Linked DNA regions of Homo sapiens. The protein of the gene in region 1 interacts with the protein of each later gene in a pairwise test. Each region holds a gene or a part of one and is shown in the gene's direction. Other genes may lie near its edges.

Region 1 (5,276 bases):
CCTGAACTTGGACAGGACTCATCATGGCTTCTAAAAGAAACTACTGGTGCTTATAATCATACAAATAATAGCATACAGGGCATGTTTTTTCTGTTTTTTTTTTCTTTTTTGAGACAGGGTCTTGCTCTGCTGCCCAGGCTGGAGTGCAGCAGTGGTGCAATCACAGCTAGCTCACTGCAGCCTTAACCTCCTGGGTTGAAGCCATCCTCCCACCTCAGCCTCCTGAGTAGCTGAGACTACAGGCATGTACCACTAAGCCTAACTAATTTTTTATTTTTTGTTGAGATGGGCTCACGCTAGTACTTTGGGAGGCCGAGGCGAGCGGATCACTTGAGACCAGGAGTTTGAGACCATCGTAGCCAACATGATGAAACCCTGTCTCTACAAAAAAGTACAAAAATTAGCCGGGCATGGTGGTACACGCTTATAGTCCCAGCTACTTGGGAGGCTGAGGCAGGAGAATCGCTTGAACCCGGGAGGCGGATGTTGCAGTGAGCCAAGATCACACCATTGCACTCCAGCTTGGGTGACAAAGCAAGACTCCATCTCAAAAAAAAAAAAAAAAAGAGGGAGTTGGGGGGTCTTACTGTGTTTCCCAGGCTGATTTCAAACTTCTGGGCTCAAGCAGTTCTCCTGCCTTGGCCTCCCACAGTGCTGGGATTACAGGCGTGAGCCACTGCACCTGGCCTGCATGTCGTATTTTTAGACATTACTCTGTCATCATGGCTGGTGGACCTTACTGCAGTCCTGTTCAGGGAGGTGGGGCAGAGCTGATGTGACCCGGTCCCTGCTCTGCCTCTGGCCCTTAGTAGCTGCCAAAGGTTGTAAAAGATCGATTGCTCTCAGAAAGCAAGACACAGAGGTTAAGAATCTTTGCAGCAGAGCCTGGTGCTCCATTTCTGAGTTCACTGCTCCCCCAGGCTCTGCTCCAGGGTCGTGGAGAGTTAGAAAAAAATGCTCAGACCCAGGTGAGCCGGCATGCAGGGCCCTAGGCTGACCACACTTCCCCCACAGAAGCGGTACCGCGCGGTGTATGACTACAGCGCCGCCGACGAGGACGAGGTCTCCTTCCAGGACGGGGACACCATCGTCAACGTGCAGCAGATCGACGACGGCTGGATGTACGGGACGGTGGAGCGCACCGGCGACACGGGGATGCTGCCGGCCAACTACGTGGAGGCCATCTGAACCCGCAGCGCCCCCATCTGTCTTCAGCACATTCCACGGCATCGCATCCGTCCTGGGCGTGACCCGTCCATTCTTCAGTGTCTCTGTTTTTTAAAACCTGCGACAGCTTGTGATTCCTACCCCTCTTCCAGCTTCTTTTGCCAACTGAAGCCTTCTTCTGCCACTTCTGCGGGCTCCCTCCTCTGGCAGGCTTCCCCCTTGATCGACTTCTTGGTTTTCTCTCTGGATGGAACGGGCATGGGCCTCTCTGGGGGAGGCAGGGCTGGAATGGGAGACCTGTTGGCCTGTGGGCCTCACCTGCCCCTCTGTTCTCTCCCCTCACATCCTCCTGCCCAGCTCCTCACATACCCACACATTCCAGGGCTGGGGTGAGCCTGACTGCCAGGACCCCAGGTCAGGGGCTCCCTACATTCCCCAGAGTGGGATCCACTTCTTGGTTCCTGGGATGGCGATGGGGACTCTGCCGCTGTGTAGGGACCAGTGGGATGGGCTCTACCTCTCTTTCTCAAAGAGGGGGCTCTGCCCACCTGGGGTCTCTCTCCCTACCTCCCTCCTCAGGGGCAACAACAGGAGAATGGGGTTCCTGCTGTGGGGCGAATTCATCCCCTCCCCGCGCGTTCCTTCGCACACTGTGATTTTGCCCTCCTGCCCACGCAGACCTGCAGCGGGCAAAGAGCTCCCGAGGAAGCACAGCTTGGGTCAGGTTCTTGCCTTTCTTAATTTTAGGGACAGCTACCGGAAGGAGGGGAACAAGGAGTTCTCTTCCGCAGCCCCTTTCCCCACGCCCACCCCCAGTCTCCAGGGACCCTTGCCTGCCTCCTAGGCTGGAAGCCATGGTCCCGAAGTGTAGGGCAAGGGTGCCTCAGGACCTTTTGGTCTTCAGCCTCCCTCAGCCCCCAGGATCTGGGTTAGGTGGCCGCTCCTCCCTGCTCCTCATGGGAAGATGTCTCAGAGCCTTCCATGACCTCCCCTCCCCAGCCCAATGCCAAGTGGACTTGGAGCTGCACAAAGTCAGCAGGGACCACTAAATCTCCAAGACCTGGTGTGCGGAGGCAGGAGCATGTATGTCTGCAGGTGTCTGACACGCAAGTGTGTGAGTGTGAGTGTGAGAGATGGGGCGGGGGTGTGTCTGTAGGTGTCTCTGGGCCTGTGTGTGGGTGGGGTTATGTGAGGGTATGAAGAGCTGTCTTCCCCTGAGAGTTTCCTCAGAACCCACAGTGAGAGGGGAGGGCTCCTGGGGCAGAGAAGTTCCTTAGGTTTTCTTTGGAATGAAATTCCTCCTTCCCCCCATCTCTGAGTGGAGGAAGCCCACCAATCTGCCCTTTGCAGTGTGCAGGGTGGAAGGTAAGAGGTTGGTGTGGAGTTGGGGCTGCCATAGGGTCTGCAGCCTGCTGGGGCTAAGCGGTGGAGGAAGGCTCTGTCACTCCAGGCATATGTTTCCCCATCTCTGTCTGGGGCTACAGAATAGGGTGGCAGAAGTGTCACCCTGTGGGTGTCTCCCTCGGGGGCTCTTCCCCTAGACCTCCCCCTCACTTACATAAAGCTCCCTTGAAGCAAGAAAGAGGGTCCCAGGGCTGCAAAACTGGAAGCACAGCCTCGGGGATGGGGAGGGAAAGACGGTGCTATATCCAGTTCCTGCTCTCTGCTCATGGGTGGCTGTGACAACCCTGGCCTCACTTGATTCATCTCTGGTTTTCTTGCCACCCTCTGGGAGTCCCCATCCCATTTTCATCCTGAGCCCAACCAGGCCCTGCCATTGGCCTCTTGTCCCTTGGCACACTTGTACCCACAGGTGAGGGGCAGGACCTGAAGGTATTGGCCTGTTCAACAATCAGTCATCATGGGTGTTTTTGTCAACTGCTTGTTAATTGATTTGGGGATGTTTGCCCCGAATGAGAGGTTGAGGAAAAGACTGTGGGTGGGGAGGCCCTGCCTGACCCATCCCTTTTCCTTTCTGGCCCCAGCCTAGGTGGAGGCAAGTGGAATATCTTATATTGGGCGATTTGGGGGCTCGGGGAGGCAGAGAATCTCTTGGGAGTCTTGGGTGGCGCTGGTGCATTCTGTTTCCTCTTGATCTCAAAGCACAATGTGGATTTGGGGACCAAAGGTCAGGGACACATCCCCTTAGAGGACCTGAGTTTGGGAGAGTGGTGAGTGGAAGGGAGGAGCAGCAAGAAGCAGCCTGTTTTCACTCAGCTTAATTCTCCTTCCCAGATAAGGCAAGCCAGTCATGGAATCTTGCTGCAGGCCCTCCCTCTACTCTTCCTGTCCTAAAAATAGGGGCCGTTTTCTTACACACCCCCAGAGAGAGGAGGGACTGTCACACTGGTGCTGAGTGACCGGGGGCTGCTGGGCGTCTGTTCTTTACCAAAACCATCCATCCCTAGAAGAGCACAGAGCCCTGAGGGGCTGGGCTGGGCTGGGCTGAGCCCCTGGTCTTCTCTACAGTTCACAGAGGTCTTTCAGCTCATTTAATCCCAGGAAAGAGGCATCAAAGCTAGAATGTGAATATAACTTTTGTGGACCAATACTAAGAATAACAAGAAGCCCAGTGGTGAGGAAAGTGCGTTCTCCCAGCACTGCCTCCTGTTTTCTCCCTCTCATGTCCCTCCAGGGAAAATGACTTTATTGCTTAATTTCTGCCTTTCCCCCCTCACACATGCACTTTTGGGCCTTTTTTTATAGCTGGAAAAAACAAAATACCACCCTACAAACCTGTATTTAAAAAGAAACAGAAATGACCACGTGAAATTTGCCTCTGTCCAAACATTTCATCCGTGTGTATGTGTATGTGTGTGAGTGTGTGAAGCCGCCAGTTCATCTTTTTATATGGGGTTGTTGTCTCATTTTGGTCTGTTTTGGTCCCCTCCCTCGTGGGCTTGTGCTCGGGATCAAACCTTTCTGGCCTGTTATGATTCTGAACATTTGACTTGAACCACAAGTGAATCTTTCTCCTGGTGACTCAAATAAAAGTATAATTTTTACCTGCGGACTTGGTTTCCTCTCTGGCTCTGAGCTGCTGTTGTGTGTGTCTGTGTGTGGGTGTGTGTCTCTAGCTGTAAGGTGCTGCTGTGTGTGTGTGTGTCTAGCTGTAAGGTGCCACTGTGTGTGTGTGTGTGTGTGTGTCCTGTCTGCTTGGGGGCACTGGCCTGTGGCCCTCCTGGGACCTCTGCTGCCCCTCGGGGAGAGAATGACTTGTCTGGATGCCAAGGGGGAGTTTGCTGCTGTCTGTCAGGCCCTTGGCCCCTACTTCCTCCTTGCTGAGAACTCCCCACCAACCTACTTCTGGCTTTCCACCCGCTCATTCCTCTCTGCCCAACTTGGTGATGCTCCCGGAAGCTTCCCTGAGCTCCGTCTCGTATTACTGTGTCACTTCCTCAGTGACATATCTGTCTCCCCACTAGCCAGAGCCCTTGGGGCAGGTGATGAGTCTAATTCATCTCTAAATCCCGGGTACCTGCCCAGGAGCGGTGCGGAGCTGTTGAATTAATGAATGAGCTTGGCTGGGGAGCAGTTCTAGCACTCTGCCGCTGCCAGGCAGAGAGCAGGAGCTCCACGCATTTGAGGAACGAGATGACAGGGCATTCCACAGTGGGACGGGACCTGGATAAAGCTGTCTGTAAGGTGGCCTGGCAACCCAAAGCACTATTCACAGTGCCTTCTGAATGTAATCTTTAATACACATCCCCTTTCTTCCTTCTTCCTCACAACCCTGTGAGAGAAGTAACTACTTATAGAGGGGCTCACTGAAACCCAGAAAGGCAAAGCAGATTGGTGGCAGTCACAGCTAGTGGCAGAGTGGGGCCTGAGACCCCCATGTGATGCTCACAGTCTGGTGCTGTGCCACCCGGCCATGGCAGGCCGCGTGCCTGTGTCTGTGGCAGCTCTTAGATGTGTGTCTCCTGGGCTCCATGTTTTGCTCCAGGTGCCCAGGGTCTGTGACTGGCCAGAAGGCCAGGCGGCCTCCCCTCTTGCTCATTGGGCTTGGGAAGAGGACAGTGGTAGAGAGGGGAATCTGGCCCTGCTCAGTGCTGCCAATCAGCCTCAGGTCCAGCTGCTTGAGGGGCATTTCTCTCTTGGGGCTCAGA
Region 2 (3,888 bases), on another chromosome or scaffold:
ATAGCTCCGTGCTTGAAGAGCCTTGAATTCTTGGGCTCTAGCAATCCTCTCGCCTCAGCCTCCTGGGTAGCTAGGACTGCAGGCACAGGCCACCATTCCCAGCTAATTTAAAAAATTATTTTTTTTGTAGACACAGGGATCTCTCTGTGTTGCTTAGGCTAGTCTCAAAGTCCTTGGCTCAAAGGATCCTCCCACCTCAGCCTCCCAAAGTATTGGGATTACCTGGCCAATAATGGAATTTTAGAACTGGCAGGAACGTCAGAGATAATCCAATGTGAGCTCTTAATGATACAGATTAATGAAGTATCAAAAGATGAGAGGTATCTAAAATTCACAAAACTTGTTAGTAACAGAACGAGTATTAGAACCAGCTATCTAACTCTTAGTCCAGTGGTGTCCTGTATCATACGGTTTCTTAGAAAATAGATGTTTCCAGGCCAGGTGCGGTGGCTCACGCTTGTAATCTGAGCACTTTGAGAGGCCGAGGTGGGTGGGTCACTTGAGGTCAGGAGTTCGAGACCAGCCTGGCCAACATGGTGAAACTCTGTCTCTACTAAAAATACTGAAAATTAGCCAGGCGTGGTGGCGGGCGCCTGTAATCCCAGCTACTCAGGAGGCTGAGGCAGGAGAATCGCTTGAACCCGGGAGGCGGAGGTTGGAGTGAGCCAAGATCTCGCCATTGCACTCCAGCCTGAGCAACAAGAGCGAGACTCCATCTCAAGAAAATAGATGTTTCCACAAATGTAAAGTCTATATGTATTTATATTTCAACAGATAATTTTAAGAAAATTAAAATGGATGAGGGCTGTTCCAAAGAAAATATTAGTAATCTAAAGTGTATGCTGAATTTTTTTTTTTTTTTTTTTTTTGAGATGGGAGTCTCGCTCTGTCACCCAGGCTGGAATGCAGTGGTGCAATCTCGGCTCACTGCAAGCTCCATCTCCCAGGTTCACACAATTCTCCCGCCTCAGCCTCCCGAGTAACTGGGACTACAGGCGCCCACCACCACCCCCAGCCAATCTTTTGTATTTTTAGTAGGGACGGGGTTTCACCGTGTTCGCCAGGATGGTCTTGATCTCCTGACCTCGTGATCTGCCCGCCTCGGCCTCCCAAAGTGCTGGGATTACAGGCGTGAGCCACTGCACCTGGCCTGAATTTGTTATTTACTATAGTCCAACACAAGAATTAAGATGGTATATATACAGTTTAAAATGGGACTTTTTTACTCTTCTGACTTTTTGTTTTAAATATATAGTGAAAACTGTTAAAAGTTTCTCTTCAGATATGTGGTAGGTATTTGAGAGGCCTTATTATTGGCTTTGGTTGACATGCTGGTTTTGGAATCTTACCTCCTAGCCTCCAAATGTCCACAGAATCTGACAATTCAGAAAAGCTTTATACTGAGAAACTATACATAGGCAACAGGCATATGCCACGCCAGTTCATGCTTCTGAGTTAGACACTCTATGGTAGGGGAGGTTGGCAATCCATTTTTGTTTTTTAAAAAAAAAAAAAAATTAGGTTTTGTGAGCCACATCCAATCTGTCATACTTTTTTCTTTTTACAACCCTTTAAAAATGTAAAAACCAGGCTGTGCGAGATGGCTCCTATAATCTCGCTTTGCGGGGCCTGGGCAACATAGTGAAACCCCATCTCTACAAAAAAATACAAACATTAGCTGGGTGTGGTGTCGCATGCCTAAGTCCCAGCTACTCACTAGGCTGAGGTGGGAAAATTGCTTGAGCCCAGAAGATAGAGATTGCAGTGAGCCACGATTGCACCACTGCACGCCAACCTGCGTGACAGAGTGAGACCCCGTCTCAGTCAATCAATCAAAATGTAAAAAACAGTTTTAGTTCTCTGGCTGTGCAAAAACAGGCTGCAGGCCACTTTTGGCCTACAAGCTGTAGTTTGGGAACCTATACCTTGTGGTTAATACCTTTATCACCATGTCATCTTAGGTTGTGCCTGATAGAGACCTTGATGAGCTTGTATCCAGAGGTACTAAATTACCTTGTGATTTACCTCTTCTCCTAACCACAGACACAAGAAGACATTAGGAGGGTTAATCTTGGTCTTCAGAGTAATGTTAGGTTTTATTTTTTTTGAGGCTGAGTCTCGCTCTGTTTCCCAGGCTGGAGTGCAGTGGCACAATCTTGGCTCACTGCAACCTTTGCCTCCTGGGTTCAAGTGATTTTCCTGCCTCAGCCTCCCAAGTAGCTGGGACTACAGGTATGTGCCACCACACCCAGCTAATGTTTGTATTTTTAATAGAGACAGGGTTTCACCGTGTTGGCCAGGCTGATCTCGAACTCATGACCTCAAATGATCCACCTGCCTCGGCCTCCCAAATTAATGGGATTATAGGTGTGGGCCACCGCACCCAGCCAGTGTTAGATTTTTGAAATCTGAATTTAGCCTGCATTTTTATTATGTTTTCTGGTTTTCCTGTTATCTTCTAGACTATACCCTGTTACCATCATCTCCTTCTAAAATAATATGATTTTCAGTGACACAATTTGATATTAACCATAATTGTCTTCTCTCTGCTTCCCTTTGTATCGTATGTCTTGTGTTTTTTGTTTTTCTCTTTCCAAGATTGCTGATGGTATGGCATATATTGAAAGAATGAACTATATTCACCGAGATCTTCGGGCTGCTAATATTCTTGTAGGAGAAAATCTTGTGTGCAAAATAGCAGACTTTGGTTTAGCAAGGTTAATTGAAGACAATGAATACACAGCAAGACAAGGTAAAATTACTTTTACATAAAAGCTTGTAATGTGTTGTGTGTTTTGCTTAACTCTCTTGACTATACAGGGTTTTCCAGAATAAGAATTGTTTTAGCTTCCCTCAGAAGAGTCATAGAGACATTGATTTCATTCATAAAATCATGTACTGCTGTGGCTTTCTGATAGTTATTTCCTCCAAGAAAGAACTTGACTAGGTATCCTTTGCATTATACATAGAGCAAGTAGTAGCCTCTTTACACTTCTTTTGACATGACAACAAATATATTTTAATTTCTTTCCTAGAAAGGCCAGAGGTTCTCAGTCAGAGGAGATATTGCCCTGTACCGCCACTCACCAGGGGACATCTGACAATGTCTACAGACTTTTTTGGTGGTTACAACCTGGGGGCTACTGCTTGACATCTAGTGGGTAGAGGCCAGGTATACTGCTGAACCTCCTACAGTGTACAGAAATGTGCAGGCAAACCCCCCCTTCCCCCCACAACAGAATTATCAGGCCCAAAATGGTAGCGGTGCTGAGATTGAGAAACCCTGCTTTAGACATAGTGCTTTCTTTCAACCTCCATACTTCTGTACAGTTACCTCCATCTGGAATGCCTTCCTATCTGTAATGTTTGTTGTTGTTGTTGTTTTTCGAGATAGGGTCTCCCTCTGTTGCTCAGGCTAGAGTATAGTGGCGTGATTTCAGCCCACTGCAGCCTTGACCTCCTGGGGCTCAGGTGATCCTCCCACCTCAGCCTCCTGAGTAGCTGGAACTACAGGTGCACACTACCACGCCTGACTAATTCTTTGTATTTTTTGTAGAGACGAAGTTTTGCCATGTTGCCCAAGCTGGTCTCGAACTTCTGGGCTCAAGCAGTCCTCCTGCCTTGGCTTCCCAAAGTGCTAAAATGGCAGGCGTGAGACACCATGCCCGGCCTGTAATCTTTACATGTGAAAATCCTAACCATTCTTTAGGGCCTAATTTAGCTGCCACTTTTTTTTTCAATAGTTTTTGGGAAACTAGTTCTTTAGTGGTGATTTCAGTGCACCCATCACCCAAGCATCTTGCACTGTACCCAATATGTAGGTTTTTTTGTTTGTTTTTTTGAGACGGAGTCTCACTCTGTTGCCCAGCCCAGGCTGGAGTGTAGCGG
Region 3 (4,455 bases), on another chromosome or scaffold:
CCCGGAGAACCCACATTGTCCTGCGCACCTCCGCACCACCGCGATTCTCTAGTCCTCCAAAGCCTCCCAAGACTGTAATGGAGTAAATTCAATTTCGTCGTGATATTTCCAAGACTATATCAGTGAAGTTTTTTTTTAAGAGTTGTGGGCCGGGCGCGGTGGCTCACGCCTTTAATCCCAGCACTTTGAGAGGCCGAGACAGGAGGATCACGAAGTCAAAAAATCGAGACCATCCTGGCCAACTTGGTAAAACCCTGTCTCTACTAACAATACAAAATTAGCTGGTCGCGATGGCGCGCCTGTAGTTCCAGCTACTCGGGAGGCTGAGGCAGGAGAATCGTTTGAACCTGGGAGGCGGAGGTTGCAGTGAGCCGAGATTGCGCCACTGCACTCCAGCCGGGAAGACAGAGTGAGACTCCGTCTCAAAAAAAAAAAAAAAAAAAAAGATTTGTGTTCGGGTGGGTGGCAACTGAGAGCTCGCCGAACCACAACCTCTTATTTAACAGATAAACAGATAAGGAAGCTGAGACCCAGAGGGAGCCAAAGCAGTGGAGAAAGCGAGTTCTTTGGGACTTTTCCCCTCTCCCCTTTCCCTCCTTCCCCAGGCTCCCACCTACCCCAGGCTCCCACCTACCCCGGGCTCATTTCCGCCCCCCACCTCCTCCAGGTTCACTTTGTAGGACTCCGTTCCTGCAGGGCCAGGTCCCTCCGAAGTCCCCGGGAGCGTGAAGGCGCCTGGGCTCGCGAGCATACGCGGAGGCTTGGCGCACCCTGGCACGTCCCAAACAGCAGAGCCAAGACTGCGAGACACTCACAATAGTTAGGGGAAGAGCCGGCAGTGGAGGCCCAAAATGGGCTGACCCCTAACTAGGAGGCGTGGGCGCGGTTATTCAGGCTAGGGCGCACGCGGACGGCAGAGGGGCCCACGCACGGTTCCCATGCTCTCCTGGAATTGAGTGTTGGCTCTCAGGGGACTTTGCTGGAAAGCCTCCATCTAAGCCCCTTTCCGAAATCAGGGAAGCTGGACGCGTTTAGAAAAAAGAAAAAAAATAGGCCGGTCGCGGTTGCTCACGCCTGTAATCCCAGCACTTTGGGAGGCCCAGGCGGGCAGATCGTCAGGAGTTCAAGACCAGCTTGGTCAGGGTTTCGCATGGCTAAAACCTGTCTCTACTAAAAATACAAAAATTAGCCAGGGTGGTGGCACGGACCTGTATTCCCAGCTACTCGGGAGGTTGAGGCAGGAGAATCGCTTGAACCTGGGAGGCAGAGGTTGCAGTTAGCTGAGATGGCGCCACTGCACTCTAGCCTGGGCAACAGAGTGAGACAAAAAAGAAGAAAAGAAAAGAAGAAAATAATAAGGTTTTAAACTTAAAGGATACATTCCTACTTACCCTCTCCACCCCCACCCTCTGGCTGCAGTTTCCATTTGCTTCCAGGGCTGAGTTTAACCTCCACCTCCGTTCCTGGGACTGTGGTGGAGGGGGCGACCGGCCCCTGGAGCGTGGGCGCTAGCGAGGTAGGCGAGACAGGGCGGAGCCCCCCGGAGGTATATCTTTATAAAGGAGGGGGCAGCTGCCAGAGGTCGATGCTGCCGTTCGGGTGGAGAACGTTCAGCACCGCGGCCAAGGACAAGGCCCCGCCCGGGTCCATAACCATTGTCCCCAGCTTCCAGATATCTAAACAGCCTCTCTCTCTTTCTCTCTCTCTGCACCTCCCCTTCACACACCCCACTTTCTTCTTTAAAGAGAAGAAAAAAAACCCACCTGGCGCACCTGTCCTTTTTTCTTCTATTTTTCAGAACCCTGGGCGGAAAGCGCGAGCGAGTTGGGCAGATGCCGGCGGCCGCGGTGCAGGAAGCGGTCGGCGTGTGCTCCTACGGGATGCAGCTCAGCTGGGACATCAACGATCCGCAGATGCCTCAGGTAAGTGAACCGGGTGTGTGCGGGCACGCGGGGCGCTGTCCATCCGAAGGAGGGAGAATGGCATTCGAGTTCTTGAAGAGTCTGCGGACGGACCATACACACACACACACACACACACACACACACACACACACACACACACACACACATACCCGCAAAATTTCTGGGTTTCTGAGGCCCTCTCAAGTGTAGAAAGAAAACTGGACTCTACAAAAGGCTGAGTTGGGTTTAGAAATGTGTCTTCTTGGCCGGGCGCTGTGGTTCATACCTGTAATCCCAGCACTTTGGGAGGCTGAGGCGGGTGGATCATCTGAGGTCGGGAGTTCAAGACCAGCCTGACCAACATGGAGAAACCCCGTCTCTACCAAAAATACAAAATCAGCCCAGCGTGGTGGCGCATGCCTAAAGTCGCAGCTACTCGGGAGGCTGAGGCAGGAGAATCGCTTGAACCCGAGAGGCAGAGGTTGCGGTGAGCCAAGATCACGCCATTGAACTCCAGCCTGGGCAACAAGAGCAAAACTCCATCTCAAAAAAAGAAGAAGAAGAAGAAGAAGAAATGTGTCTTCTCCCAGCAATTTCCTTGTGCTTGCCTGAAATCACAAGCAAAGCAGCAGGAAATGTTGGTCAGGCTCCACATTCCCAGTCTTGGGGAGAGCGGGACGCCTGTCCTTTCACTTCCCTTTAACCAAGGTAGAAATTAGGTGCCTCTCTCCTTATTCATTTACTTTAAATCCATGAGGAAGCTAAGGAGAAAATCTAAGCAGATGTAAATACCACTGCTTCTCATGCAGCAAAACTGAGGTACAACTGTAAAGTGAATCTAATGACCTAAATTTAAAACAAGTAGCCCGACTTGAGCAATTTGCTCAGACCTCCCTAACTGCTCAGAGGAAGGAGGCCCCATAGTCATGCCAACAAGGCCACCTGTACCCAAAACTTACTTCTTCTCTAATGACAAGCAAATCATCATTCTTTTAGGGTGAATTTGTTGTATTTTGCTTTATTTCAATAAAGCAAAAATGGTTTGGAGCCAAGTCCAAAGAATGACTGGGGTGGATGAAGTGGTGAATGAAGTGGGTGGTTTGAAGCCAGTTCCAGAGAATGACCAATTATCATTAGTCACACTGGTTAGGGCCAAAATTGAGTGATGTTGAAGTCCTGGCTGTAGGGGGTGGGGGGTGTAGAATGAGAGTTGCTTCCCTGCCATTTGCAGATGTGGGCTTCCAGCAATGTTGTGGCACAGGGATAAAAGAGATGGGTCATTTTGTCCGCAACTAAAATGTGTCTGATAGGTGTTCAGATGAATAACAATTCATTGCAACATTGTGTCGCCTCTCATAGAGGTCAGCACTTTTTTGGATCCATATATTTGTAGTAGGTTAGGTGTGTTTTACTCCTTTGTTTTTGTTTGTTTGTTGGGGTTTTTTGTTGTTGTTTGTTTGTTTTTTGAGGCGGGGTTTAGCTCTTGTTGCCTAGGCTGGGGTGCAATCACACGATCTCAGCTCACTGCAACCTCCATCCCCCAGGCTCCAGCGATTCTCTTGCCTCAGCTTCCCGAGTAGCTGGGACTACAAGCATGCGCCACCACGCCCAGCTAATTTTGTATTTTTAGTAGAGATTGGGTTTCTCCATGTTGGTCAGGCTGGTCTCGAACTCCTGACCTCAGCTGATCCACCCGCCTTAGCCTCGCAAAGTGCTGGGATTACAGGCGTGAGCCACCGTGCCTGGCCCACTCCTTTGTTTTAAAGTCTGCCTACTTTAGAGTCACATGGTACCATTTTCATGAAAGTGGACCACAGTACAGCAAGTGCATCTCATTCTGTTTCTGTCCATGTACATCTTCACAGGAAACAATCATATCTTGCATTTTAGAAAAGTCACATCCAAGTAATGTAATTATGGTTCATCTCTCAAGCATTTGCTAGACTTCCCATGTCAATATGAACTTTTTTTTAGGAGACTGGTTGTTAAGCAGGAAGCATGTGTGTAATATCTCAAACGGGCCAGGCACACTGGGACATGGAGAAGTGAAGAAACTTAGCATCGCCCTGCTCTGGGTAACCGAGTGAGCAAGTTAAACTACCTGTCTGACCTTGAGAGAGTCCTTGAATTTGCCTTAGTCTCAGGCTACTTACTCACTTGTCATCAAGTGGTAGAGTGAGATAACCATCTCAAACTCTCCTCCAGGTCTACGATCAGGTTCAGTGTCTATGTGTGTGTATGTACACACACACACAACATGCCAACACTTGAGAGCAAGTGAAACCCAATCCTTGACATCCTCTATTCTTGTACTGATTTTAAAAATACAATCTCTGTGGCTTCATTGCCAGGGTCACTACCTCAGTAGCTCGTGTGAGGCATGGGGGCCTAGTCTACATCCTTAAGGGAGAGCTAAAGAAATGCTGTTTTCTGGAAAATTGTCAATTTGTTACTAAGATCCTTAAGTTAAAATATTCACTTTTAAAACAAAGATATTAGCATTTAATATAAGCTTGGAGTTGATAGCACATCATTATATATTTCATTTGTG
Region 4 (3,888 bases), on another chromosome or scaffold:
CTCGGCTGTGGCCCCGTCATCCTGATGTGTGGTGCTGGCTTTGGACACTTCGAGTGGCTGGCAGGGGGAGGTGGGTGGGATTCAAGGGGAAAACTGTTCACTGCCATCAGACTCCTGCCCAGGCACAGTCTGTGCAGGGGCCGTGACCCTTTCCTCTCGGGCCCCCAGGCCACATGAGGGGGCTGAGTGTGCCTTGGCTGGCCAAGGCCTCTGGCTGGAGCAGCTGGGCAGGGCTGCTTGGCTGTCAGGAGTGTGGGAGGGCTGCAGATGAGGGTCTGTGTTGGGGGCTGCATGGTGTGCAGTGGTGTGAGGCTCGTGTTGCCACGCTGGCCACTGCTGGACCACTGGCACCGTGTTCGCTATGGCATGGCTGAGGCTGTGTGGCGCCCCTCCACAGCCGCACCACCAGAGAACACCCAGTGCCAGCACTTAGTCACTTACTGCCTTGCCTGCCTGGGGAAAGATCCTGGAGAAGGTGGCCTCATTGGTTTGCAGCTCTGCTGGGGGTCCAGCCACAGCCCAGGAGTGACTCTGACCGAGGTGTTGGCCCCACAGACCAGCCGTTGTCTCTGTTGGAGGCTGAGGGCCACAGCACAGTGCCCACTACTTAGCCAGCAGGCCGTGGCCACCTTAAGAGGCCAGGGGAAGCTGGCGGGGGAGGGCGTGTGGGCTGCCAGCCTCCACCCTGGACATGATGGTGTGGGGCATGGTCCCCTGTGTCCCCCTTCCTGTGAGTAGGGGTGGCCCTGCTTCTTGGCCCATGTGTCTGTCCACACAGCAGACTTGGTCCGGTTTCCTCAGTGCACTGGGGTCCTGCAGAGCTTGGGGAGGCAGCACAGGGGGCGGGGGGCGCAGCAGTGACTCATCTGCCCTCCCTCGAGTAGGGGCCGGCCAGGACGTGGGCCGAAGCTGCATCCTGGTCTCCATTGCGGGCAAGAATGTCATGCTGGACTGTGGAATGCACATGGGCTTCAATGACGACGTGAGTCCCTTGGGCAGGAGGCCCAGAGGCTGGGAGAGCCGGCCATCCACAGCTGGACCCTGGGCCTCAGAGCCGGGACAGTGGGGTGGTGGGCAGCAGTGGTTGTGCTTGGATGGCTGCACCCTGTGGGGAGCAGGGATGGGTGGGCCTGGCCGAGGTGAGCCCCTGCATGGTGGGGTCCCCCTGTGCTGGCGCTGAGCCCCAGCCCCGGGGTCCTGTAGGCTGGACTCCGTGAGACCCTGGGCTCAGCTTCCAGCTCACATCTGTCAGTGAGGTTGGGGGTAACCTCGGCCCCTCCGGATGCTGTGAGCAGCCAGGGGTCCTGGTGCCACCTGCGGGATGGGAGTGCCCAGCCTGAGTCTGCACATAGAACCCCCCTTCCTGGGGGCCCCTCCCTGGGGCATGGGTGGCCCCAGATGCTGCCTGGAGACCACTGTGCAACCTGAAACCCCCACATCCTTCCTAGCGACGCTTCCCTGACTTCTCCTACATCACCCAGAACGGCCGCCTAACAGACTTCCTGGACTGTGTGATCATTAGGTGGGTTCCTGTTGGGGGCCTTGAGGGTCCCATGTCTGTGCCTGTGGGGCTTGGGCCACCTTGCTTGGTCTCGGCAGCGTTTGGCAAGGGGCCTGTGCCATCCTTGATCCTCAGGGGGCTTCTAGGCCCCAGGATCTGCTCCCTGCCTGCCTTACTGGTCACACACATGGCCTGGTCTCTGTCTGTTCTTCCGGCCCTGCCCTCTGAACCCTACTTTCTGAACCCGGCCCTCCAGGCTTCACCCTCTCTGATGCCTTCACTGTCTCAGGATCTTTAAACCCCACTGTCTTGTTGGCGATTCCAGAGTCCCGAGTCTGCCCTGACCCCAGCCTTTAGGGTTCAGCAGCTCATGACCCGCTGGTCTGGGTGGCCTCGTCTGGACGGCCACAGCACTCCTGCTGGCCCCCTGCCCTTCCCTGCCCTGTCCTCCCCAGCAGCCAGGCCCGTGAAGCCTGGAGAAGCCCCTTCTCCTCTCCGGAGGCAGTGTCCTCAGCTGCCCCTGAGCCCCTCGTGGTTGTGGTTTCTTCTCAGACACGGTGGGGTCCCCAGTGCCTTCCTGGGGCTTGCCAGGCGCTGCCCTTGCCCTCAGGTCTGTGCCACCTTCACCTGCAGCTCCACTCAGCCTGTCCTGACTGCCTGAAAAGCCAGCGGCTCCCCTATGCGCGGTTCCCTCAGCAGCTTTGCATTGTCTCGCGAGCATGTCGCCGTCACCGACGTGTTCAATTTCCCGTTTGCTTATTGCCTTGCTAGACTTTGAGACTGAAAGTTCCAGGGAGACAGTTTTGTGTTTGCTCATTACTGACTCTTCGGTACTCGGGATGAGGCCTGGCGCACAGCAGGCGAATGAAGGGGCCAGTGACCCACAAGCCCAGAGCGGGGGTGAAGGCTGGGGCAGGGTGGGCCCAGGCTGACCTGTGCTGCGTCCCCCTAGCCACTTCCACCTGGACCACTGCGGGGCACTCCCCTACTTCAGCGAGATGGTGGGCTACGACGGGCCCATCTACATGACTCACCCCACCCAGGCCATCTGCCCCATCTTGCTGGAGGACTACCGCAAGATCGCCGTAGACAAGAAGGGCGAGGCCAACTTCTTCACCTCCCAGATGATCAAAGACTGCATGAAGAAGGTGGTGGCTGTCCACCTCCACCAGACGGTCCAGGTCAGGTTCCCAGGGCCACAGCTGGCACAGTCACTGCCCACCCCCACACCAACCATGCCCTCCGCCCGTTCTACACAGTTTCTGGAAGGCTGGGGCCTCAGGGTGAGCCCACCCCACCTCACTCTTGCGTCCAGCACCGTGGGGACACCAGGAGGCGTCAGCGCGAGGATGCGGGTCCCAGACCAGACTGGGCGCCGACCCGGGAGAGCACGTGCAGGGTGGGGGTATGCACCGGCTTATGAACCCACCAGGCTCTGTCCGAGCGGCATTGAAATGGCCAGAGTGGGACAGGCTGGTGCCCTCAGAGCGCTTGGAGCGGCCAGAGACTCGCTGGAGCTCCCGGGGTGTTGCCGGGCAGGGAGGCAGGGGCTGGAGGGGAGATGGGCCAGCTCTGGAGGGTGCCTGGTTCTGGGTGTGGGTCAGGGAAGAAGTGAAGGTTAAATCAGCGAGTGACAGGTGAAATTCCATTTCTGACAAAGATTATGGGTTTGTCTGTGTCTCACTCGAATCTCTGGGTATTGCTTTTATATTTCTTGAAACTATATTAGGTACCTATGTATTTTGGAACATTTAATTTTCTGATTGAACTTGTCAAAATGAAGTATGTTTATCTTTTTTGTTGTGAAACTTTAATTTTTTTTTTTTTTTGACAGTGTCTCACTTTGTTACCCAGGCTGGAGTGTGATCTTGGCTCACTGCAGCCTCGGCCTCCCGGGTTGAGGTGATCTCCCACCTCGGCCTCCCAAGTAGCTGGGACTACAAGCATGTGCCCATACGCCCAGCTAATTTATTTTGGTATTTTTTGTAGAGATGGGTATGTGTTGCTAAGGCTCTCGAACTCCTGGGCTGGGCTCCAGGGATCCTCCCACCTCAGCCTCTCAAAGTGCTCGGATTACAGGCATGAGTCACCACACCTGGCAACTCCCTCAGTACATTTTAAACCCAGAAAGACATCATTTCTAATGCCTGGTAACACCAACATTTGCTTAGTTTTATTTATATATTTATCCTTTTTGTTGGGCTTCCTGCATTTTTTCTACTTTTTACTTGGGATAATTTGCCTTCTGCCTGAAGAATATGAGTGTGGGTCTGCTGGTGCTGAATTCTGTCAATTTTTATTTGCCTTGGCCAGGCGCGGTGGCTCACGCCTGTAATCCCAGCACTTTGGGAGGCCGAGACAGGCGGATCACGAGGTCAGGAGATCGA

What was found.
Region 2: the proteins of LASP1 (region 1) and YES1 interact in binary tests that used the Homo sapiens proteins (3 or more experiments, as listed by UniProt).
Region 3: the proteins of LASP1 (region 1) and GCM2 interact in binary tests that used the Homo sapiens proteins (3 or more experiments, as listed by UniProt).
Region 4: the proteins of LASP1 (region 1) and INTS11 interact in binary tests that used the Homo sapiens proteins (3 or more experiments, as listed by UniProt).

Annotation. Positions count from the first base shown.
Region 1 is NC_000017.11:38,917,591-38,922,866, forward strand, and holds the end of LASP1 (LIM and SH3 domain protein 1), read left to right. Parts: intron 1-1,014; coding exon 1,015-1,188; 3' UTR 1,189-4,180; downstream 4,181-5,276. UniProt on the Homo sapiens protein: Plays an important role in the regulation of dynamic actin-based, cytoskeletal activities.
Region 2 is NC_000018.10:735,672-739,559, reverse strand, and holds part of YES1 (tyrosine-protein kinase Yes), read left to right. Parts: intron 1-2,598; coding exon 2,599-2,752; intron 2,753-3,888. UniProt on the Homo sapiens protein: Non-receptor protein tyrosine kinase that is involved in the regulation of cell growth and survival, apoptosis, cell-cell adhesion, cytoskeleton remodeling, and differentiation.
Region 3 is NC_000006.12:10,879,171-10,883,625, reverse strand, and holds the start of GCM2 (chorion-specific transcription factor GCMb), read left to right. Parts: upstream 1-1,584; 5' UTR 1,585-1,832; coding exon 1,833-1,922; intron 1,923-4,455. UniProt on the Homo sapiens protein: Transcription factor that binds specific sequences on gene promoters and activate their transcription. Through the regulation of gene transcription, may play a role in parathyroid gland development.
Region 4 is NC_000001.11:1,318,090-1,321,977, reverse strand, and holds part of INTS11 (integrator complex subunit 11), read left to right. Parts: coding exon of another isoform or gene 1-70; intron 71-884; coding exon 885-982; intron 983-1,448; coding exon 1,449-1,522; intron 1,523-2,453; coding exon 2,454-2,682; intron 2,683-3,888.